Linked DNA regions of Homo sapiens. The protein of the gene in region 3 purifies or fractionates together with the protein of the main gene of each other region. This does not show direct contact. Each region holds a gene or a part of one and is shown on either strand. Other genes may lie near its edges.

Evidence for each region. Proteins that work in one complex are often made in the same cells at the same time.
Region 1: the proteins of P2RY1 (region 3) and GPM6A purify together in Homo sapiens (affinity purification with mass spectrometry; 2 studies listed by BioGRID and IntAct, with this or other methods). This does not show direct contact.
Region 2: the proteins of P2RY1 (region 3) and SLC19A2 purify together in Homo sapiens (affinity purification with mass spectrometry; 2 studies listed by BioGRID and IntAct, with this or other methods). This does not show direct contact.

Annotation. Positions count from the first base shown.
Region 1 is NC_000004.12:175,801,993-175,809,790, forward strand, and holds part of GPM6A (neuronal membrane glycoprotein M6-a), read right to left. Parts: intron 6,771-7,798; exon of another isoform or gene 6,609-6,770; intron 4,980-6,608; exon of another isoform or gene 4,873-4,979; intron 4,088-4,872; exon of another isoform or gene 3,934-4,087; intron 1-3,933. UniProt on the Homo sapiens protein: Involved in neuronal differentiation, including differentiation and migration of neuronal stem cells. Plays a role in neuronal plasticity and is involved in neurite and filopodia outgrowth, filopodia motility and probably synapse formation.
Region 2 is NC_000001.11:169,475,673-169,483,470, forward strand, and holds part of SLC19A2 (thiamine transporter 1), read right to left. Parts: intron 2,086-7,798; coding exon 1,483-2,085; intron 1-1,482. UniProt on the Homo sapiens protein: High-affinity transporter for the intake of thiamine. Mediates H(+)-dependent pyridoxine transport.
Region 3 is NC_000003.12:152,828,813-152,838,130, forward strand, and holds the start of P2RY1 (P2Y purinoceptor 1), read left to right. Parts: upstream 1-6,318; 5' UTR 6,319-6,970; coding exon 6,971-8,092; 3' UTR 8,093-9,318. UniProt on the Homo sapiens protein: Receptor for extracellular adenine nucleotides such as ADP. In platelets, binding to ADP leads to mobilization of intracellular calcium ions via activation of phospholipase C, a change in platelet shape, and ultimately platelet aggregation.

The sequences.
Region 1 (7,798 bases), on a different chromosome or scaffold from region 3:
TCCGTATAAGTATAATGAGCAGATCCCAATCATTTGGAGGGGGTTCAAAGTTGCTAAACAGTGTTGTAGAGATCAATCATGGAAATACATGCTTGCTGTCTCTTTGTGAATTAAATTTTCGTGCAGTGTTGCAAAAAAAAGTTACTATGTAAAAGTAACACATAAATAAATAAGCTTATCTTTCTTCAAGATTATACTTTTCAGCCTGGCTATACAACTGGCCTATAAAACATGAAGTTATTTCAGTTGTTTAACAAGAATTCATTCTCAATTCCACCAAATAATGGTATCACAAGTTCATCTCAAAACACAAATTAGTGATTAATACATCAAAAAACTTAGTACACCAAAATTGTAGAGAGAATATGATGAGCATTGAAAGGTTAGATGGAAATACTCTTCCGATACCATTGACCAGAGCTCAAATGCCCTGTTTTCAGATACTGTCTTGATCCCATCTAAAATATAAGCCAATTGTGTGAGACTATATACCAATTAAAATACAAAAACTAAAATAAAGCGTAAAAGAAGGCAAAAGAAAATTGATTACTCATTGCATGCTATTTTTTAAATTCATTACCTTGAACATTACTAAACATATCCTAGAAAAGGTCTTATCTTATTAAACTGTCCTCAATGATTTCAAACTGTTATTTCTTATGTAATTTTGTTTTCTTTGATCAATACTTATGAATGAACACAGTAAGCCTAGTGTCAGCAAATTTGTAAACTACTTTGTTAAATTTTAACAGCGTATTATAAAATATTATGACATAATTTTCCAAGTTTCAGTAACCATTTGCTGAATCTGACAGTTTAATGTATTTGACTTCATTGCCAGAATCACAATGCTAAAAATATGTGTGGGCTCTTTAATAATAAAAAAAGAAAATCTATTCATTTTCAAGAAAGCTGCTACCAAACTACTGAATATATTTCAGGTCAAAGAATAAAAGAATTATTTTTAATTCAAATCTAATGACATAAAATGGAGTCCTTGCTGCATTCTCCCAAGCCAGGTTTAGCTGCTCTGTTAGATCTGTCTCTATTTAGGGGAAAAATTGTGTTTTATTCTTTCTTTAGTCTGCACAATTGACCTCTTCTTCTTCCTCTTTATCCTCTTCTTTTTCTTCCCCTCCCCTCTTCCTTCTCTTTCTCCTCCTGTTCTCGTTTCATCATCATCATCATCATCATCATCATCATCATCATCATCAGCTATGAATGGGTTTGTATTCAGAGCACTTTGCAGGTTGGGTTCATGAACAAACGATAAAAACTTTACCCTTCAGGAATTTGTACTTTGAGAATGGAGCTACAGCATAACACATACATAAGAAAAAACAGTAAGATATGCCATATAGTAAGTGACAAACATTTAAGAAATAACTGTTACAACAATTCGAAAAAGTTATTAGTCCTTTAATTCTGACTCTCTGACTCAAGGAAAATTGCTTGGTCACCTTTTTAAATGGGCACAGTGTGTTAAGATGAGAGGAAAGGAAACATGGAGAAGGAATCTGCATTTACTCAACTCCTAGTATGTTCCAGGAATTGTAATAGGCGCTTTTACCTAGTCTTTATTACATCTAACTCACATTAAACAGACCTAAACCCAAAGATAATGGTAGAGAAAATTAATTCTCAAAATGGAGATTTTGAAAAAAATATGGTTGAATAACACAGATTAAGTTACAGAGAAAATGAAGGTGGAGAAAAGGAGCCAGGGCTTTAACACAGGTCATCTGATTGGGAAACCAAAAGTCAATTGGCCACTCATTATGATGGTCAATTGAAAAACTCCTGGCCCTTATACATATTTAAAATTCATGGAGACAATCTGAGTGGGTGGTTTCTGAATTCTAGATCTTATGACTCAATTACAACTTTCTACTGTGAAAGGTTGAGCAGAGATTTAAAATGCTTTAAGTTCAATTATTCTGACTAATATTCAAAGCATTCTTTTCACTGTAAAATGGTTTTTTTTTTTAACTTGATGAAAAACTAAAATAACGTCTCTGAGACAATAAACCACTAAATGAATCTGGCTTTGGTAATACATTGGTACTATTTAAAACAGAGATTCTCAAAGCCTATGGTTGGTTTTAAATTGACAAACCACATTCAGTGTCATATCTAAGAGTTCCATTGTTCAAACATTGCTCAATCCTTATTTTAATAATGAATTCTATTATTGAATATTGAAATATTGAAAGGTGTTTGAAGAAAAATAAATATAATTCCTTACTGCCACTCAAATGTACAGTCTGTGGTTCCAAAAATTTGAATTTAAATGCCCTTATTGTGGGAAAAATAAATTTTTAACTAGAAAAATGGAGAAATCATTTGGCTCATTCTCCCTTCTGCCCACCTCATAATCTTTCTTGGAACTGAAATGGAAGACTACCTCATTTTGTTACATGACAATTCTTTTTTTCTCTGGATGTTTGTGTGAGGTTTTCTCTTAGTTTCCTGTAGAGTTTGAACCCAATGGCCCTTGACTAAATAGTGTGACCGTAAAGTCAAAGAACATTTGATATTTATTAAAAAGCTGTAATCAATATTTATTAACTAGTGTTAAGATATATTGACATTAGACACTGCATATGAAATGCTTAGAACAGTGCCTGGATTATTAAATATTAGCTATTATTATTAATATTTTCCTTGACAAATAAATCATGCTAGTAAAAGTACTTAATTATGTTTCTGATGTTCAATAACGAAACTGAACAGAAAAACTGATATGGTATAGGCTGTTAAAAATGAAAGTGGGCCGGGCTCGGTGGCTCACGCCTGTAATCCCAGCACTTTGGGAGGCAGAGGCGGGCGGATCACGAGGTCAGGAGATCGAGACCATCCTGGCTAACACAGTGAAATGCTGTCTCTACTAAAAACACAAAAAATTAGCTGGGTGTGGTGGCGGGCGCCTGTAGTCCCAGCTATTCGGGAGGCTGAGGCAGGAGAATGGCGTGAACCTGGGAGGTCGAGCTTGCAGTGAGCCAAGATAGCCCACTGCACTCCAGCCTGGGCGATGAGCGAGACTCCATCTCAAAAAAACAAAAACAAAACAAAACAAAAACAAAATGAAAGTGGATATCCACCAACACAGGAAATGTGTAGAAGAATCTCAAAAAATTTTTTTTTCAAAAAAAAAAGCTGTCAAGTTTTGGGGGGAAGGTAATTTGGCCGTGTACTAGTTCTTTATTTGAATTATTAACTAAACTTTGTTGCATAAAACAACAATCGGAATAAATACAGGTGTAAAGTTTTTCTCCCATATTTTATTTTTGTTAAGAAAGAATAGGTAATTCACCATTCAAATAACCTTTCTAATGGGGAATATTAATTGCAACCATAAAAATGTAGAAAATAGTTTCCCAGACATTGAAAGTTCTATTATAAATCAATGAAGAATGCTAATTAGCAAAATACTTTAATTGCCTCACTTTTACTTGATAACCAAGAAAAAGCATGACCATCCCCTTTTAGGAGACAATATGAACAATCTCTTTTATGTTTCTAGCATCATTCTCAGGGATAGATTTCATCCAATTCCTCTCTTTGATGGAGGTAAGTAAAGTAAAACTCATCATTTCTCATATGATAAAAATTTAAGTCCAAAAACATTAAACAATTGAAACAATGTAAGAAAGTGTCTTTCTTTCTTTGGGAAATCAATCTGGATATATACAGCAGTTAATGTTCTAACATGTTGACATCTCTTAATACACATCATTTAAAAGCCGACAGTCATTCTTCCTTTTTTCTCTGACCTCAGATTTCCTCATATTATAACTTAATTCCCTAGTAAACTCTATAAACAGACTCCAATAAGGAACTGAGTCTCATCTTTGACCAAAGTTATATTTCCCACTCACAATTTGAAAAAAAAATCAGTTATCTTCTGTTTTTCTTTCTTTATGTTGTTCACAGTACAAAGAAGTAAGTTACTGTTGGATTAAGAATATCCAAGACAATGGTCACAACTTGAAAGCACATGGAAAAACATGAATTATTTTTATAATGTCAGCTAATCCACAGCTGTGCCACCTGTTAGTATGGATGCTATCCAAAAGGATTTTTGAAAGTAAGCCAGGCAGTCTGCCTTCGATGTATGAAAAAGAAAACTGTCAAACATTTTGAATGGTGGGGAGGGGTTTTTGCTTGGGGGAAAATGGAGTTCGCAATGGACAAACTAGAAGTTATCTCCTGTATCCTATGAATCTCTCATGAGCCATTGTCTTCTGATGAATTAAGGAATAATTAATTTCTAAAAATCATGTCTTAGAAGCCATCACTCCAAGGACACTATCAATATCTATCTATCTATCACGCTGTACTTCTCATTTAGTCTCTTTAAATATTTAAACTTTAATTCAAGGAATTAATGAAGTAACTATATCAAGCACTTTCATTTGAAAAGGTGAATTCACTCATTTTAATGACATTGTGAAAAATCTATTCATATCCTTCATCTGAACAAGATGTTAGAAATGTGTTATTGATATTTTGGATCTCTGAGATAAACAGTACCACAGACACTAAAAGAAACCATAATTAGCAACTGATCCAAGGAAAATATAAAATGACAAAATTCTAAAATGTTATATCTAAACCACAGCAGACATAATAACCACAACAATGCAGAAGTTCTACGAATATCTATTGAACTTTATTAAAAATATAACTAATTTTCCCTACTGACAGATGTTGTAGAACTACATTTGAAAATACCAAGCGGTAAAAGTAATTTCTTACGCCCAGGAGGACACTTCAGGTTAAGCACAATGCTAGTAAAAGCACAGCTGTGAAATCTTAGGAGAGATTTTTCCTATATGCTTTATAAAATCTGATTCTCTATGTTTCTTTTAGCCTTGTTATCCAAATGCAGAAATGGCAGCTGAAGAGATGATTTGTGACAGCATTTGCTGAGACGAAGTCTGTCCACTAGATGGATAAAATCAGTTCCCTTTTCATAGGTCTGTGAGTAGCCAACAGCTAAGAAGCAAATTATTAATTCTTACACTTAAATGACTGCTTAAAGATTTTTGATGTTGTTTTTGTTATTTTCTTAGCCACTAGTCTACAGACTTCAATGACATATTAAGGATTATAAATCTATTAATAAACCAGACACATTCTGTCTCTTTAATTTCTTTGCAATAGTTCTCCAAATATTATACTACCAATACTTACTGGTAGGCAATGATTTAGGGACGAATTTATTTAAATTGTAAAAAATCAAAGATCAGTGAGGGAAAAAAATCAAAATCATCAAGAATACACTAAAGAAAGACTGGTGTCAAAGTTGAAATTTAATACATTAAATATACAGTTGATTCAGCTTCGACTCACCAGGTTAAACTCAGGGAAAATTTCTTAGCAGTAAGCCTCTTTATGTAAGACTCCTAAAAGGATCTGAAGATTTGTTTTACTTAGAGGTCTTTCGATTGCAAAGAATAGAGATTCACCCAGAGTAGCTGAAAGATGGGGCAGCATAGTTATTATTAAAATTTGCCGTGGGATAAAGAGATCCTCAGAGCATACTGAGAGTCATCTTTTCCCCGTTCTCAAGAAAGAAGGCCAATTGAACCAATTCATCTTTTTGGATTCAATTCACGACTTACAAGTCGTAGATTGCTAGTGCACTTACAGATTGGCTGCCCTTGAAAAAGTTTTCATATCTGGCAAAGAAAAGAAGCCAGAGTTGGTGGTAAGGAACACAACCATAAATTGCAGATCATAGCTGATGACTGCAATGGAAGCATGTGGGGGAGGCAGTCCTTCGAAGGAGTGTGGCTGCCAGGCAGGCAGCTATGGCCATCTAGTGTAGAGAGTGGGGTTGAAAGTTCAGAACCTGGACTCATTCTGATTGCATTGAGCCCAGCTCTACTATTTACTACGATGTGACTTTGGTCTAGTCAATTAATCTATTTGGTATTTATTTTCCTCAACATTAGTACCACTTAAGGTTATTGTGAAGAGCCAATGAGTTCATTTAGGTAAAGTCCTTAGGCCAGTGTCTGGAACTGAAATCACCAGGCAGTATAGGTTGGCCAATATTTCCTAGTCTCCTACAGCCAAAGCTGCCTCTTTTTTTCGTTGATTATAGTGGTGTCTCTTCTTCAGGGATGATGTCTGCTTAAGGAAAGGTGAGGTTCTAGAGTCATCTTTCAAGATAAAAATAATCTTACACACACAAAAAATGTCTGAAGAGACTTTTAGTCAGCCTATAAGCTGTACTGTATATTAAATATACTTTATATTAAGTACAATATACAGTATATCCTTGTGTGCATAGATTCCTTTATAGTAATATGTGTGTATAAATGTATAAAGTATATGATGAAGGGGTCTCTTGTCAACAATAATTGTACAGTATTTTAAATAATGAGATAGATCAACATTAACATTGATATGAAAAACAAAGAAAATAAACCTGTACCCTCTCCTTTCATTTATGTATTCTTGTTGGTTTTAATAAATTAAAGATACGCTGAAATGACAAATAGGTTAGTGCTATTGAGCTAAGGATGAACAATGACCATTGAACTTTGGCTGTATATTGCTGTTTGAAATGATGGAACTGGTCATTTGATCACATTCAGCTTGATCATCTACATCTGCTAGTGACCCAGTCCCTGAGAGTCACCAAGAATTGATTCCACTGAGGCGATGGCAGGCGGGGCTTTGGTGTTGGAAAAGTCAGTGGTTGATATGGACAGCACAGACTCACATAAGCTGCTGGTTTATTACACTAGAAAAATAAGGTGAGTGACACTGTGGCTGTTATCTTTTGTGCTGATCAAAACTTTCTGGTATACTCCATGTAATTTTGAGACCTGTTTCATAAAATGTTCATGTTCAGAAATTAAAGCCATCAGGGTTTTGGCTGTTTGGAACAGTTCAGCCAATTTATGAAGACTCCAACCTGCTGGCTCTTTCTGTCCCTTGCTGTTTTCTTTTTATCTCTATACAGTTTTGTTGCTCCCTTTACTTATTGATTCATCAGCCTTCCTCTGTAAAGCCCTCCTAATTCAGCAAGGCCTTCATTAGGGCTGTCCATGAAGAGATGGTCACCCACTTGTCTGGCCACCCGAATGTGTATTCACCAATTCACTCCTAATTAGAAACCCAAAAATCATTTACGTATTTTCTCGTAAGATTTGGCAAAATGTTCTAGAAACAGTTGCATGGCTACAAGTCATAAACGCCTACCTGTTAAATCTTCATCAAAATATCTTTATTCACTTTGCTCAACCCCTCTGTAGTAACTGGGGTCCTTGTTGCCATGATTTTGTGACAATGGCTCTTGATTTTGGTGACAGATGATGCTAGGTTTATTATGGCCATAGTAAAGACCAAATTCAAAACACTCTTTTCTTTTTTTCCTTTTTTTTTTTCTATACTAGAATATCATTGTTTTGGCTGCACACAAGATGAAGTAAGTGGCTTTCATTTAGAGGCCATGTTTTACCAAAAAATATGTTTCTTAAAATACTAGATTCCCCTCAGCATAATGAGATACTCACTTTTGGGGAGGGTGTCAGAAATTGCTGGAGCAACAGATTAATGATCCCCATTTCAGTTTCACATCAGGCATGGGCTCATTGAACACAATGGCTGGTGGGTGAAGTCACCCATACTGTTAAATTATCCTCTCTCTCTGACTGAACACATATGCTTAAATTAGGATAAAAGTTAGGACTATTCTCAATTGTCTTTTAAAGCTTGAGAGGGGAGTGGGCTCTCACTATGAAGAAAAATATATTTCTTAAGACGGATGATCTTTTTAAAT
Region 2 (7,798 bases), on a different chromosome or scaffold from region 3:
ATGAAAAAAATCAGCATTTCATTGCCACTTAATCCTTGGTCATTCTGACAAAAAGTGCTCACAGGTGCCCTGGTAATCAAGGTGAGTTTCATGATGAGGGTTGCCCAGGCTCTACAAGTCTACCCAGGCTCTCTGGGATGATAACCTAAATTTCAAGTAGTAATTTGAGAGCTGAAGAACGGGGATAGAGAAAAGAGAGTAATTTTCAATGAGGACATTAGATGCCACATTTAAACAATTCAGTTAACTCTCAGTAGAGAATGAAAGACTTTACTCATAATGGTTCTTTATTATCAGCCAGCCTACAAAGCTTATGGAGCTCAGTCCGACTGAGGCCACCTACAAAGCTGGAATGTTAATAGGCTTATTTCCAAACATGTCCCAGGAAAACTAAGACTACAGTGTGGCTGGAATTAACTTTGTTCCTCACAGCTTATAACCTAATAGAAACAAAAAAAACACTTGAATATTTAAAAAAAAAAAAGGGTGGGTGTCTAGGGAAAGGAATTCATCTTCCTGGCTAGACAGAACAGATGGATAAATTATTTTAATGCCATACCTCTCTCTTCCAAGAGACAGCTTCATAACACACTTTTACTATTTATTCCATCACCACCTCAAACTGTCCTCTTGTGATCTCTTCGTCTGTATTATTCATTACTACTTCACTTCAGCAAATTGTCATTTGAAAAATAAATAACAGATATCCCTTCTAGCACAGAAGAGGAAATTAACTTCTTACCCTTAAATACTGTGGGCTTCATGACTGGGTGCGGTGGCTCACGCCTGTAATCCCAGCACTTTGGGAGGCTGAGGCTGGTGGACTGCTTGAGGTCAGGAGTTCGAGACCAGCCTGGCCCACATGATGAAACCCCGTCTCTACTAAAATACAAAAATTAGCTGGGCGTGGTGGCGAGCGCCCATAATCCCAGCTACTAGGGAGAGGCTGGGGCAGGAGAACTGCTTGAACTCTGGAGGCGGAGGTTGCAGTGAATCGAGATCGCACCACTGTTCTCCAGCCTCAGCAATAGAGCAAGACTCTGTCTCAAAAATAATAATAATAATAATAATAATTTGGGCTTCAATTCAGAAACTAGAAGTAGATACTTAATCATTTATTAGAATCATTTCATCTACTCATTTAGCAACAATTTTCTGAGTGCTTTATTTATATGCCAAACACTCAAAAGATGAAGACACAGCCCTTGCAATCCAAGGCATCTCTGACATGAACAATATAATGCTGTATCAGTCTGACTTTGGAGGTCACGCACTCCAGGAAAAAATAAATGTGTCATCCCTAATATAAATAAACCATAGCTTGAATGAATGAATGAATGAATGAATAAAGCAATAAACCAACTCAGGATAAAACATGAATCCAAATAAATACAAGATCTACCAAGAGGGAGTTTGCTGTTTTTTTCACCACGGGTCCAGCCCCCATAGTAGCAATTACAAGATATTTAAGGCTGAGCTTACCGGTTCCTCCACGGGAGGCTCCTCCATATTTAGAGGGATTTTTGACTCAATGTCCTCCCAGCCAGGAAGGTGGTTAGAAGCTGGGGTGTCAGTAACAATGCCACCATTTTGTACCTTGATGCCATTCACTCTCTGGCAGGTAGAAGGAATGTGGTGAAAGAAGAGGCTCTTCTGTGGCATAGGTAAAAACCAGGCCACAGCAAAAGCCACTGAAACACAGGTAAGAGAGATGACATTCAGGCTGAACAGCGACCAGCCTGCCACTGAGACAAGGATTTGCCCTAGGACAGAGCCCACTGTAAAGCCCACCAAAGTGGCACTTCGACAGTAACTTGTGACTTTCTGGTACATGCCCAGGTCCACCACACTGTAGATATAAGAGTAATAGGCAATTTCAGTGGCTGTGGCGATGCCATAAAAAAATTCTAGAAATTGAATGGCCAGCAGTCCCTGGGCATAGAGCAGCATAAACCATGTAACAATAAGGCTGAGCCCCTGCAGTAGAACAACAGGTTTATAACGGAGGTAGTCTGTGGCAAGGAACACAGGAAACAGTAGCACCAGGTAAGAGTAAGTCCATACTGGATAAATTTCATTGAAGACCTGGTAGAAAGAGAAAAAAAAAAAACAAAAAACATTAGTGATGAAAGGACCTGGAATACTCATAAAGAATTTATTCATAAAAAACAACCTACAAATACCTCAAAGATCTCAACCTTGACAACAGCAGTTCAGATAACTTTGAAAATGTCTTTTCTCTCTTTTTTGTTTGAGATGGAGTCTTGTTCTGCGCCCAGGCTGGAGTGCAGTGGTACGATCTTGGCTCACTGCAACCTCTGCCTCCCAGGTTCAAGTGATTCTCCTGCCTCAGCCTCCCGAATAGCTGAGATTACAGGGACCCACCATCACGCCTGGCTAATTTTTGTATTTTTAGTAGAGGTGGGGTTTCACCATGTTGGCCAGGCTGGTCTCAAACTCCTGACCTCAAATGAGGAGCCTCCCAAAGCGCTAGGATTACAAGGGTGAGCCACCTCGCCCAGCCTGAAATATCCTTTCCTATCCCCAATACCATCATCTTTTTCCTAATAAATTCTTCCCATTAATCAAGGCCTAGTTCAAAGACTTCCTTATTCAGAAAGACTTTGCGGAAGCCAAAAGTACTTGTATTACAACATTCAAACCCTTTTTTTTTTTTTGGTTTTGTTTTTTGTTTTTTTGAGACAGGGTCTCCCTCTGTCACCTAGGCTGGAATGCAGTGGCAGAATCATGGTTCACTGCAACCTCCGCCTCAGGTGAGGCTCAGGTGATCCTTCCACCTCAGCCTCCCCAGTAGCTGGGACTACAGGCCTGTACTACCACAACCAGCTAATTTTTTTTTTTTTTTTTTTTTTTTTTTTTGGTAGAGATAGGGTTTCACCACGTTACCCAGGCTGGTCTCAAACTCCTGGGCTCAAAGCAATCCACCAGCCTCAGCCTCCCAAACTGCTGGGATTACAGACATGTGAGCCATCTGGCCTAGCCTCAAACTCTCCTAATACTGATCTATATGCATCAGTTTCCCCAATTAATTCATAATACTGGCTCTTCACCATGGCTGCATCTCCTAAGAAGCTTTAAAAAAATGTGTTAGCCAAGCGTTGTGGCACATGCCTATGGCTGCTACTCAGGAGGCTGAGGTGGGAGAATTGCTTGAGCCCAGGAGTTTGGGGCTGCAGTGACTTATGATCACACCACTACACTCCAGTCTGTATGACAGAGCAAGACTCTGTCTCTTTAAAAAAAAAAAATGCCCAGCCACAGATATTTTCTAAAAACTTCCCAATAGAGTTTTAAATGAGCCAGAGTTGAGAACAACTGCCTTATAGGCTTTTTAAGGATAGACCCCTACATTCACCTGTATAACCTGTCTAAAAGCCAGCATACTGTTTGGAAGATACTATTCAATAAATGCTTTGAAAACGGAATCACTGTCAATTCTTACTTCTAGACACAAGATAGGGAGCCTTTATCCTACTGTTTCATTAAGCTTCTCTGACTTTAAGTTTTGTTTCTTTTGGGGCAGAGGAACAAATAAAGATGGTCAATGTGTCCTACAGTCTTGACAGAATTAAGTCTCTCTAGATGGCAGGAATATAGGCAACTTTTATGTCCTTCTTTTTGCTTGTTTTTAAATAGAAAAAAGAAGTTTTTGCTGTTTTCTTTCTAATGCATATTTTAAAATTGGGATATAGTAGAAATGATCTTTAAAATAAACTTTAAACCAGAAAGACCCCAACAGGAATTTCAGTTCCATCACTTGCTGTGTGATTGTAGACAACATTCTTTTAGTTCCCCTTAGCCTTAATCTCCATTATCAGTAAAGGGCGGTTGTTTGTTGCAAAAAGTAAATGAGACACAACATGTAAATTACTTACTCCACCTGATTTATTCACAAAGTCTGAAGACTAGAGGACAAGCTGACAAGGACATCTGGGGCAGTATGAATTAACTAAATTAATTGAGCTATCATTCCCATTCTTCCAACAACAATCACTGTAGGAGATTTTTCCTTCCTTTTGTCAGTGGCCTCAACTTTTAAGTGCTTTTTGAAAGGTAGTTTTGGTAAAAGGCTGAATACTTTGTGATGAAGCAACCTAATCCCAGACTTTTACATTCTGAGACCAATAGTAACTTTCTTTTTATCTTTCCTGTACATCTCAGTTCACTCAAGTCTAATATGAGCTAAGGTTCTAAGGTTTTAGGCAAACAATAAAAAATTGTTGCAAAATCTCTTGCCAGTGCAGAGCATAGCTATAAAAGTAAAACATAATCCCTGTTTTCTGAAATACATTCCAGACAAAAGTGATCTGTTTAATGGCCTCACCTTCATGAATTTTGGTCTAATTTGTGTTGGTAAATCAGTTAGCAAGCTCCACTTGATCAGGAAATTTTGTTGCACCTGACTATGTGCCTAAACGAATAATCAAGAAATGTAGAAATGATTCGTATTCAAAACTGTGGAAATTTTAGCAAATGAGGAAAAAAGTGCCCTTAGCTGCATTAAATAACTCTAAGTAGAAAACCAAAGCAGGTAAGGGTAATCTTGAGATTTCCAGTTGTGTTCTAATTAACAACTTGTCATTCCTTTGTGGCCTATACTTTTACAGATACTATCTGTCAGCTTTCTTTTTTTTTTGAGACGGAGTTTCACTCTTGTCACCCAGGCTGGAGTGCAATGGCGTGATCTCGGCTCACTGCAACCTCTGCCTCCTGAGTTCAAGCGATTCTCCTGCCTCAGCCTCCCGAGTAGCTGGAATTACAGGTGCCTGTCACCATGCCGGGCCAATTTTTTGTATTTTTGGGAGAGACAGGGTTTCAATATGTTGGCCAGGCTGGTCTCGAACTCCTGACCTCATGATCCGCCCGCCTCAGCCTCCCAAAGTGCTGTGAACCACCGCACCCAGCCTGTCCATTTTCTAAAGTTTGAAACTGCCTCCTCTGTTTGACTAAGTGTCACCTTCACAATTTCCCCAACATAGCACCATGAAGTACTAGCCATTAAACCTTTCCTTTAAAAATGTCCTCTACTGCTCCCTTCAATAGTTCATCTTCCTTTGTTTTGGGATTTTGGATGACCTCTTCACTCCAATAATATTGTCTGTGCTTAGACATGTTACATAACTTTTAACCATAGTTGTCCCAAAATGATTAACTGCTAAGTTTTCATTGTCTAAGTTTCATCCTTTAAATTATCAATTTAACGTATCTTTACTCATGAGTCTAATTCTACTATTACAAAACTACAATTTAGATAATGAAGATGGAGGAGAGTAACACTGCCAACCTTGCAATAACAACTAAAAACAAAAAGAAAGGCAAATAGGGGAGAGGGGGAAGACCAGATAGTTTCTCTTTAACTTATTCTAAATAAGAAACCTGCATTTTCTCCTTTAAAAGACATCAACCCAGGGGGAATGCCCCACTCACACTATTATCAGCATCATAATAACAAACCTCTACTGCTGTGTTACACACCACGCTAAGCACTTTCTCTAAATTCTCTCTATTTAATCCAAACCACAAACCTAAGGTAAATGCTTCTATCATCTCTATTTTACAAACAAGGAAACTTGGCCTTAAAGAAAGGTTAAGTGAATTGTCCCAAGTTATCACAGGATTGGCAGAAGAAGGATCTGAATTCATAAATTCTGAATCCGCCACACTAAAATGCCTGGTTTCTTCAATCAGAAAACTGCTATTAATCATCTACTATCTTCCAGGTTAATTCTAATGCTTGCAGTAGCTTTTCCAATCTGCACTGAGGTGCTTTTACAGGGCATTCATGAAGAGATAAAGACTACAGTCTCCAGCACTTAACTAATGGGTCTCCAAGGCAGATCCTTTTCTTTTTCAGTGTTTCCAATGACAGCAAAAAATGCTTCCTTGATATTTTGAATCTTGAAGGGAAACATCCTACAGGCAAAAATGTACCAATTACAGACCCTTATTAATTGTCCATACTCCAACTTCTCACTTCACGTAACATCTGCTATGTGAGCAACGGGAATTGATTTTATTATGACCAAGGTGCCTTTCACAACTCTTTGGATCAGTGCTTGTGTTTTCTTGAGCTACAAAGTCAAGGGAAAACAGATGTTCATTTTTAAGTTCTAATTTAGATTTAGGCTTTAAATTAGAATCAAGTTTCAATTAAACAACTAATAGGCAGTTATTTGCACAACATTGTTTTCAACCAGCACGGAGGTGACAAAAAGAATAAAATGGCCAGGCGCAGTGGCTCATGCCTGTAATCCCAGCACTTTGGGAAGCCGAGGTGGGTAGATTACCTGAGGTCAGGCGTTCGAGACCAGCCTGGCCAACATGGCAAAACCCCATCTCTACTAAAAATACAAAAAAATTAGCCGGGCATGGTGGCGTGTGCCTGTAGTCCCAGCTACTTGGGAGGCTGAGCCAGGAGAATCACTTGAATCTGGGAGGCAGAGATTGCAGTGAGCCGAGATCACGCCATTGCACTCCAGCCTGGGCAACAAGAGCGAAACTCCATCTCAAAAAATAAAAATTAAAATTAAAATTAAAAAATTTAAAAAAAAAAGAATAAAATAAGGCTAGGCACTGTAGCTCATGCCTGTAATCCTAGCACTTTGGGAGGCCAAGTTGGACAGATCACTTGAGGCCAGGGGTTCAAAACCAGCCTGGCCAACATGGCAAAACCCCGACTCTACTAAAAATATAAAAAATTAGCTGAGAGTAGTGGCACAAGCCTATAATCCTGGCTACTCAGGAAACTGAGGCATGAGAATCGCTTAAACCTGGGAGGTAGACGTTGCAGTGAGCCGAGATCGCACCACTGCACTCCAGCCTGGGCAACAGAGCAAGACTGTCTCTAAATAAATAAACTGAGATCCTCAGCTCTCCAGGAGTATTGAACCTAGTGAGGAATATATAATATATGCAGTATTTATAATGGAAATAGGAAATACAGGGTTGTTTCTTCAAAATGGACCTTGAAGGATGAGAAACCTAAAGGCTAACAAAGATATCAACAGATATATATGGGAAGATTATTCCAAGAAGAGAATAAGTCTTTGAGTACATGTCAACAGATGAGACTGTGGATATGCTGGACTTAAGACTATTAGATTAATATGAATGGAGCTTGGTTATGTGGAAGTGGTAAGGGGAAGAAGGTTTGTAGTAGGATATAAGGCTGTCAAGGAGGTAAAAACCAAACTTCGTGAGGCTCTGAATATCAGGCAAAATAGGTGGAATGTTTAAAAAAATCTAAGAAAGGTAGTAAATGTCTGTCAAAACACATGCTACAATGATGAAAGGATAAAAAAGTTTTTAGAGATAAAGATCTGTTTTACTGAAAGTCTGGCCTTCAACTATTAACATACAGTCAAATTTTAGCCTGCTTAAAACTTACACACTGGTATCTGTTTTAAAATTAATGCTTTTCCTGAAATCTAAGAAAAAAACTTTTGAGAGTAGACAGAAGAAATCTTTTTCTCCTCTCCTTTTGTTTTAGGATTTAGTTAACAATAGCTCTATTCAAACCAACTTGGCCCTTCTGCAGTCTTCTAAGAGCAAATACAAACTTTAATACAAATGTCGCTGAATATGACTTAGCATTAGCTTTGCTTAAAAATCATGTAATTTTTTTTATTTAACTGTCCATGGCAAAAAACAAGCATTCAGTAAGTAATGAATAAGTTGTTCTATTTATTTCAATTATTAGTTATACAAAAAAACGTAGGGTTTGCCACAAGGTAAGCAGAGGAGAATCAGCCATGATTTGGTGGTCCTCTGAGAAGAC
Region 3 (9,318 bases):
CACATAAAACCTTGCTACTCAGAATGTAGTGGCTGGATGAGGAGCTTGGATGTCAAAGGGAACTTGTTAGAAATGCAAACGCTTTGGCCCCATCTCATACTTAAAACTGTGTTTTAGGAAAATCCCCTGGGTGATCTGAATGCACATTCAAGTGCGTTCACTTGAGTGAGACTCAAAGTAGATGTTTCCAGTGAGGAAATTAGTATTTTACTTAGGTAGTTATTATCACTATGAGGATCTGTAAGATAAATATTTAGCTGCGGTATCAGCTGTCTAGAACTAAGGCTGAAAAATGAAGAAAAACAAAACTAATTTGAGATACTGAGGTTCTGCTAAACTCTATCATCGAAAACATAAGTATATCCAGAAGTAACTGATTATTGTTTGCCTGAAGCATTACCTAGTCTCTATGTTGGTTCTTTTCTAACTACAAATAACTGTTTATATATTGATTTTATTTTATAAACAATGTATGGGACTATTTCTTCTTACTAGGTTGACTCATTTGGTGCTGTCTTTGGCTACCCAGATATCTTTCCATAAGAATGTCTAAATTTTGGCTTGTTATAAGAAGACTGTCTGGAATTAACTTATTTTGCCAGCTTTTCCAAAAGAATTTCAACTAAAAGTAGCACCAGAATAATTTATAAAGACGGATACAATTAATGCTCATCTTTTTAAAGTTAGTTTATATTTTCAGTGCTACTGGTGAAAATTTGTCACCAACTCTTTGGACAAACAAATTCCAAAATCTGAAAGGTGACACCAACTGCAATTAACTTTAATCTTGAAAAGTGTGAAACATTCAGGACATAATTGAGATCAACATCCCAGGAGTAAACTGATGGAAGATGTGACTTACATAAGAAACACAGGGGTATTTCTTTATTCTTACACATGATTTTCATTTGCTTACTTGGAATTAAGCTTATGTATTCAAAATACAGATGTACCAAACATCAGTAATTGACATATGATAGATGTAATAATGACAAATAACTCTCAAATAATGTCATATTTTTATTCTTGGTGGTATCATAGGAACTCCGTATGGTTTCATAATTATGGTATAAGACCAAAGATTTAAGCAACTGGCTCTAAAGATACTTGTGTACCCCCAGGCTTTATAAATATTTATTTCTCTGTTTTCTTAAAATGCTAAGTATATAAGGAAATTGTAGAACAGCTGGCATGTAATACAGGATTTCTAGTCTGTTATCAGTAAATGTTCTAAGACACACCTTTAATAAAACAGAGATGTCAAAGACAAAGACAGCAAAGGAAATTTTTATCAGAAAAGGATGATTAAAGAAAGTTCTACAAGACAGGATGGACTAAAGTTTTTTACTCTGTATTTTAACAAAAATGCTTTTTGAAAGTATTGTAAAGTGCTCAGGACTAGGGACTAGGGCTTCATGTAGATGAGATAAAAGAAGTAAATATTTTAAAAAGAAGTATAAGAAAGGAGTTCCCTTGAATACTTATTCTTAACTTTGGAAGCAAGAAACTTTCTAAGGATGGAAGAAGGTTTAGGTGGCCTGGGATCTGACAGGTACTTGTAAGTGAAAAGGCACATATAGAGAACTTAGCTCAATGACATATGATTCAATAGGGACATTGGCCACATGACTGCATAGCTTGCATCATCTCACCACCTTCCAGGCACCTCCCAACACACCCAGATTTAAACCTAAATAATAGAAAAGCTATGCTCAGTGATATTTCCAAAACCTTCTTCCTATGCCTGTGCAAGTATCTTGCTTTCTCTTCCTCTGTCCCCCAAATACTGTTCAGGCACTATTTCTCCTCCTGTACTTCCCTCTTCCTCCTCCCTCTCCCACTTCTTCCTCTTCTTCTTCATTTCACTGTCTGCTTTTTATTATTATTATTATTATTATTATTATTATTATTTCCTCTCCCCTCTCCCCGCTGGCCTCCTGTTTCTTGCTCTCTTGCTCTCTTCTCCCTTTTTCCTCACTCAACTTCAGATCAATCCTGCTGGGTATATTCTGTGTCCTATACCCCTGCTGTGATTCTTAATGAAATAAATTTCAGGAAGCCTACTGATTGGATCCATGACAAGTGTATAATTTATAGGAGCAGCTGGGCCCTCCTTGGCACAGGACAATCCTAATTTTTTCTCTGTATACTCTCTTTCCAATTCTGCTCCATCTTAGCCTTCTCCTTCTCCTACTTCATTGGTGGACATCAGCTGGGAATTCCTTACACTTCTCCTATTTCTTTCTCTTATTTTCTTCTTGGGGAAGGAAAGGGTCTCCTCCCTTTCCTAAAGTGAATCTCAGAAGTTCAATTTAGAAGGATATCCTAATGATATCCTTCTAAAGGATATGAGATGAACCTTTATCTCATAAATCAGGGTCTCATCGTCTCTCCTCCGTAAATCCTAACAGCTGTCTTACCTATCAGCTCCCAACTTCCTTCATATTGCTACCAGAATTAGGTTTAGCATTTGTGGTATGATATTTATTTAGTCAAATCTGATGGTTTTTTGGTCTCTACTCAGATGGGAGATTTCATATTTTATGTTTATGAGAAGTTTCTTTTTCCCTTTTCTGCCTGTGGCCCTCAATTGGAATTTTTCCAATGATTTTCCCATTCTTAATGATTGTTGGATTTTCTGTGGCTTAAAGAAAAAGAAAATAGAGATTTTCTAAATATGGTGATAAAAATCTTTGTAAACATAATAAGGGCAACCTTTTTGTTTATGAGTCTAAAACTCAACAGATCTGATGTCCCAGTGATTTTCTCTCTCAGATTATAGGTAAATCGCTGGCTGTTTTTAAGAAGCCTATGTAGAGAAGTGGAATATTTAGAAGCTTCTGAAATACTCTTTGACTATCAATAACTTCAATATCTGGCTTAGAATTTTCTCTCCTGAGGGAAGGCTTCTGGGAGTAACGCTTTCTAAACGCAATCTGTGCTGGCCACTAAAAGTTAACGTTTCTCTCAGTGCCCCGTATTTGCTTTTTTTCATCATGGGATAGTGGCTGAATGCATAGACTTCAGTGACAAACAGCCTACATTTAAATCCCAGTATCTACTGTGTGACTATGGGTGAATTACTTAACCTCCCTGTACCTTAGTTTCATCACTTATAAAATGGGAATACAATGGCCAAATATCATCATGCATATTTTAAGGGTGAAAAGAGATAATCCTTTTTACATGTACACAGTACTTGAGTGTACAGCAAAGGCCTATTTTTATTGCTATTGTTATATTTACTATTATGGTTAGCTATATATATTATTTGCATTTCCAACTAAATTGTAAATCTCTTGAAGTCAGGTTCTTACACTGCTACTTAAATATAAGGGCATAAGAAGGGCAACCTTTTTGTTTATGAGTCCAAGACTGCCATTAAAAGTAATGGCAGGCCGGGCGCGGTGGCTCATGCATGCCTGTAATCCCAGGACTTTGGGAGGCTGAGGCGGGCGGATCATGAGGTCAGGAGATCAAGACCATCCTGGCTAACTAACACTGTGAAAACCCCGTCTCTACTGAAAATACAAAAAAATTAGTCGGGCATGATGGCGGGCGCCTGTAGTCCCACGCCAGGCAGGAGAATGGCATGAACTCGGGATGTGGAGCTTGCAGTGAGCCGAGATTGCGCCACTGCACTCCAGCCTGGGCGACAGAGTGAGACCCCGTCTCAAAAAAAAAAAAAAAAAAATTAACATGGAATGCTTAGGGATGTCACTTAAATATGTAAGAATTTTTTATCATGTCTTTAAGCCATCTATAATTGATGTTCAAATGTGAATAATGATTCTTAGATTTTTTCTTCATTAATAATAGTTGAATGTTTTACAAATAGAAAGTTATAGTAATTACTGAATATATGTAACTTATTCCCACAAGGCAAAATTTTGATTTAAAGCATAACTGAAACATAACTGTGTAGTTAAATATGTTGAATGCAAAAGCAATGCTTACAAAGTTTGTTTATTTATTTATTTATTTATTTATTTATTTTGAGACGGAGTCTCACTCTGTCGCCCAGGCTGGAGTGCAGTGGCTCGATCTCAGCTCACTGCAAGCTCCGCCTTCTGTGTTCACACCATTCTTCTGCCTCAGCCTCCCGAGTAGCTGGGACTACAGGTGCCCGCCACCACACCCGGCTAATTTTTTGTATTTTTAGTACAGAGGGGGTTTCACCGTGTTAGCCAGGATGGTCTCCATCTCCTGACCTCGTGATCTGCCCACCTCGGCCTCCTAAAGTGTTGGGATTACAGGCGTGAGCCACAGCGCCCAGCCCAAAATTTATTTTTTAACATCATTTTTTAAAAAGTCTGTGGTGCACTTAAAACAACTATCCCCCAATTCCTAGTAAGGTGTCAGTTTTCTGCAAGTACTTAATGGTATCTGGACTAAGTGTACATTTCAAAACACTCACATTATGAGTTAATGCATTTGCAACAAACTTCTGAGTGAAGTCAGATATTGCCTAGGTTGCAAATAAAAAATGCAAAGGAGTGAGGACTTAAGACCTATTGAGTACCCCTGGAACCCTTAATGGTTTTCTTTGCTTCCTTTTCTCTCTTAATAGACAATCATCCCACCTAGGACCATACTAATCAAACAATACACAAATGTTTCATGTTAAGGCTCAGAATCATAGACTCATATAATCAGGAGATTGGAAGGAAACACAAAAAGTAAGACTTTTCAAGACAACCTCATTCACACTGTTTACTTGAATTATTTACTCTTGTTTTATTATTAATTTTTATGCTGTTCAATTGACTACAATTCAAAACCCAGTGTATTCATACCATGTGCTAAGATATGCTCCTTCCTATATGTGTTCCTCTAAAGAACCATCTGGATCTTGTGGGGGATATTTTCCTTTGTGGTATCAAAGCCAGGAGCTCGTGGTTTTCCTTTATTTTTTAAGGGAACACTATCATGTAGCATCTGGGACCAGAAAGAAATCTTGATGTTATATATTTTACAGATATTTTCTTTTTGGATTTTTTTTCCTCTAAGAGAAAAGCTTTTGTTAATGTGTCATGTAAAAATACATTAACTAGTAACTTGTCAAGAAGTGCTAGATTCCATTCTTGTGCGGGTCCATTTATATATGTTCCTGAACAGCTAATATTTCATTTAGTTTCCAATTAAACTTGCTCAAATACATTTTTGAAGTGCATTGCTTAAAATTTACATTCAAGGCAAGAAAACGAGTTTGTCAGTAAATGTAGTAATTAAGGAAGTCCCAAGTCTGTATTTTTAAGATACTAGAGGTAATTGTAACTAATCACTTTAACTTAAAGAAATAGAATTGGAAATACCCCCCTCCCCCCGCCACCCCCTACCAAAACCATACCTTAGTCACTTTGGAATTATAACCGTCTTTTACGTCTATCAATATAAATGTATTGCATTTGGCATTCAAATTACTTTCAAAGGGATAAATTTCGAATTTTTTTTTTTCATTGTAGCTTCTGATCTTTAAATGTACTGAACAGGAGGATTTGGGGAGCTTGTCTTGTCTGATAGGTGTTAAGTATCTATGACGACAAATTTGAGCTGAAGCAATGTGCAATATGGACTAGTAATATCTTCACAAGACTATTTTGGAAATTCTCACGTTGATGTTATTAATGACGTGGGTTTATTAGCATTTGGGTAATTAAGAAAAAACAGTACTAGAATTTAAAAAAAAGAAAAAAAAAGGTAAGAAGGGCGAAACAGAGTTCTCCACTCCTCTCCCAACCCTCATTCCTTTGGAGGCTCGCGCCCTCTTGGAATAGCAGGTTCCTGCATGTGCCAGAAATCCGGTCCCGGCAAAGCTAGACGCTCTGCAATGACAGGCGTTCCCAGCTAGGGACTCCTGGCTGCTTGGAGCTTGAAAACACCTGGCGTGGTTCTCGAGGGCCCTAGAGGCTCCTGCTACGGACTGGTCGGCTCTGGGGTTGTAGGCAGAAGGCTCTAAGCGGTCGGAAGGGTTTCCTGTGTGTCAGCAACTTCACTTTGCCGAGATAGCTGGCGGAAGAGGGAAGGAGCGCTCGCGGGCCAATCGCCTGCCAGCAGCCACCTTGGAGCGCACCCCTCTCCCTCGCCGCCGACTCCGGTAGCAGCGTGCCGGCAGAGGCTGAACACACTCGGCCTCGGCGGAGACCTGCTCCCCAGAAGACGCCTCCTGCTTCCCACTGCGCCCTGGAGGACGCGGGCTGGCTGCTGGGCGAGCTCGGCGGAGGCACGCCCCTCGCCTCCCCGCGGAGTGCGGACTCGCCCCGGTGCCCAAACTCCGCCCACCCTCTAGGGAGCTCCGCTCTCCCGCCTAACCCCGGCACTCCGGACAGAGCTGGGCCTGGGGAAGGGGTTCCTGAACTACGCGGACGCCGAACGGGACGCGCTGCAGAAGCGCACGAGTCTGCGGCCACGCGCGCTCCGATGGCTGCCAGGAGCTGAGCTCAGGGTGGGCGGAGGAAGCGGTTAGACGCCCCGAAACTGAGCTGCACGTTTCTAAGGTAGGGAGGAGGAAGATGCCCCCAATTAAGTTGATCTTTGAGCCAAGGAGGCTGGGGAGCAGCCTCCCCAAGCTAGAGCCCTGCAGAGCGAGTTTCCCTTGACCTCGCTGCGCCTCTGGCGCGCTCTGCAGCGCGGACCCGCGGCCCCTCGGGAAAGCGCAGTCGGAAAGTTATCCGCGGCGGTTCCCTGCGCGCCCTGTTGTGTAAGCTCGGCGTTGCCAGCGGACGGAGAAGTTGCTGGCTTGCCCGATAGCCCAGTTCGGTGGCGGCCCGGGGCGGATTTCATGGCCCGCGGCGAACGCGGGGCCAGAGCTGGCGTGGGCGAGCCCCTGCGCGCCCCCTCCCGCGGGGATCCAGTTCGCCTGCTCCCTTCCGCTCGCTGGCTTTTCCGATGCTTGCTGCGCCCCTGGCCGCCGCTGCCCTCTCGCCGCCTCCTACCCCTCGGAGCCGCCGCCTAAGTCGAGGAGGAGAGAATGACCGAGGTGCTGTGGCCGGCTGTCCCCAACGGGACGGACGCTGCCTTCCTGGCCGGTCCGGGTTCGTCCTGGGGGAACAGCACGGTCGCCTCCACTGCCGCCGTCTCCTCGTCGTTCAAATGCGCCTTGACCAAGACGGGCTTCCAGTTTTACTACCTGCCGGCTGTCTACATCTTGGTATTCATCATCGGCTTCCTGGGCAACAGCGTGGCCATCTGGATGTTCGTCTTCCACATGAAGCCCTGGAGCGGCATCTCCGTGTACATGTTCAATTTGGCTCTGGCCGACTTCTTGTACGTGCTGACTCTGCCAGCCCTGATCTTCTACTACTTCAATAAAACAGACTGGATCTTCGGGGATGCCATGTGTAAACTGCAGAGGTTCATCTTTCATGTGAACCTCTATGGCAGCATCTTGTTTCTGACATGCATCAGTGCCCACCGGTACAGCGGTGTGGTGTACCCCCTCAAGTCCCTGGGCCGGCTCAAAAAGAAGAATGCGATCTGTATCAGCGTGCTGGTGTGGCTCATTGTGGTGGTGGCGATCTCCCCCATCCTCTTCTACTCAGGTACCGGGGTCCGCAAAAACAAAACCATCACCTGTTACGACACCACCTCAGACGAGTACCTGCGAAGTTATTTCATCTACAGCATGTGCACGACCGTGGCCATGTTCTGTGTCCCCTTGGTGCTGATTCTGGGCTGTTACGGATTAATTGTGAGAGCTTTGATTTACAAAGATCTGGACAACTCTCCTCTGAGGAGAAAATCGATTTACCTGGTAATCATTGTACTGACTGTTTTTGCTGTGTCTTACATCCCTTTCCATGTGATGAAAACGATGAACTTGAGGGCCCGGCTTGATTTTCAGACCCCAGCAATGTGTGCTTTCAATGACAGGGTTTATGCCACGTATCAGGTGACAAGAGGTCTAGCAAGTCTCAACAGTTGTGTGGACCCCATTCTCTATTTCTTGGCGGGAGATACTTTCAGAAGGAGACTCTCCCGAGCCACAAGGAAAGCTTCTAGAAGAAGTGAGGCAAATTTGCAATCCAAGAGTGAAGACATGACCCTCAATATTTTACCTGAGTTCAAGCAGAATGGAGATACAAGCCTGTGAAGGCACAAGAATCTCCAAACACCTCTCTGTTGTAATATGGTAGGATGCTTAACAGAATCAAGTACTTTTCCCCTCTTTAACTTTCTAGTTTAGAAAAAAATCAAACCAAGAAAATAGTGAGTTAAAAAAATAATAGAAGTAGAAATGCCCACATCCACACTTAGCTTGTTTGGGTTTGCTTTCACAGTCTCTCTTCCTTCTGACTAGAAGTATGTATAATAAAACAATACTACCTAGTTAAACATTTACTTTCTCTTTTGCCTTTAAAATGTGCAGGCTTTTCTGTTTAAAGTGTGTGTGCACATGAGTACTGGGGCTGTTTTTGATATTAGTAATTTCTCTAAGAAAACTAGCCCCCTGCAACTTGAGTTTGTGGTTTATCTAGCCTTTATTGTTTTTTTAAAATCCACAGTAGGAATAAAAAATCTATATTCTCAGAAATATCTAGCATGGTATATAACAAAACACTAAACTCATCAGTTCATCCGGCATCAGATCAATGGATCTCTGAGCGGGGTGTTTTTTTCAGTGTCTTATAAGCATAGATGATAGTTGACTGAGTTTCTTTAGGGCATTGAATAGACAAGTAAAGCTAATGAATTTAAAAGCCTGAAAAGTGATTGTTTTCCAGTTATTTCTGGAAAAGGTCTCATTATATATTGGGTGCTAAATGTTTGATGGGGAAAGCCTGCATATATTATCGTACTGGTAAAATGCATTCAAAATAATTAAAGTGCATGTATTTTCCTTGTAAACACCATGAGCTCTCTTAGACATCTTGTGATAAAGAGCATTTACTTGCCCCACTGCTGTGCAATGCCTTAGGACTTTGTTTGTGTTCCAGGACAAGTGTTCACTCACATCTGTAAAAACAATTTTAAGAATTGCAAATAAATTACAGACCAAAGATTGAGTAAAGTCAAATAACTGTTAGTAAGTTGAAGGATATTGGACAGGAGGACAGTATTTCAGAAAAGGAGAGGTTGACAGTCATCCACAAGGCATAGCCTCCAAGTATACTCTCAAATGTATGAAGCAACTGGGGTGGGCAGAAGACATTTTAGAATGAGGGCTTTAGTTTAAATTAAAGTCATGGTGGAGAAGACTCTTGCTTCCTCCAAGTGTTTGAAAACACAAAATGCGATATGAAAAGAAGAAATAGAATTTGTATAGGTTGCATTGATAGAATGGGAAGCTATAATCTTTGAATAAACCTTACATCTCAA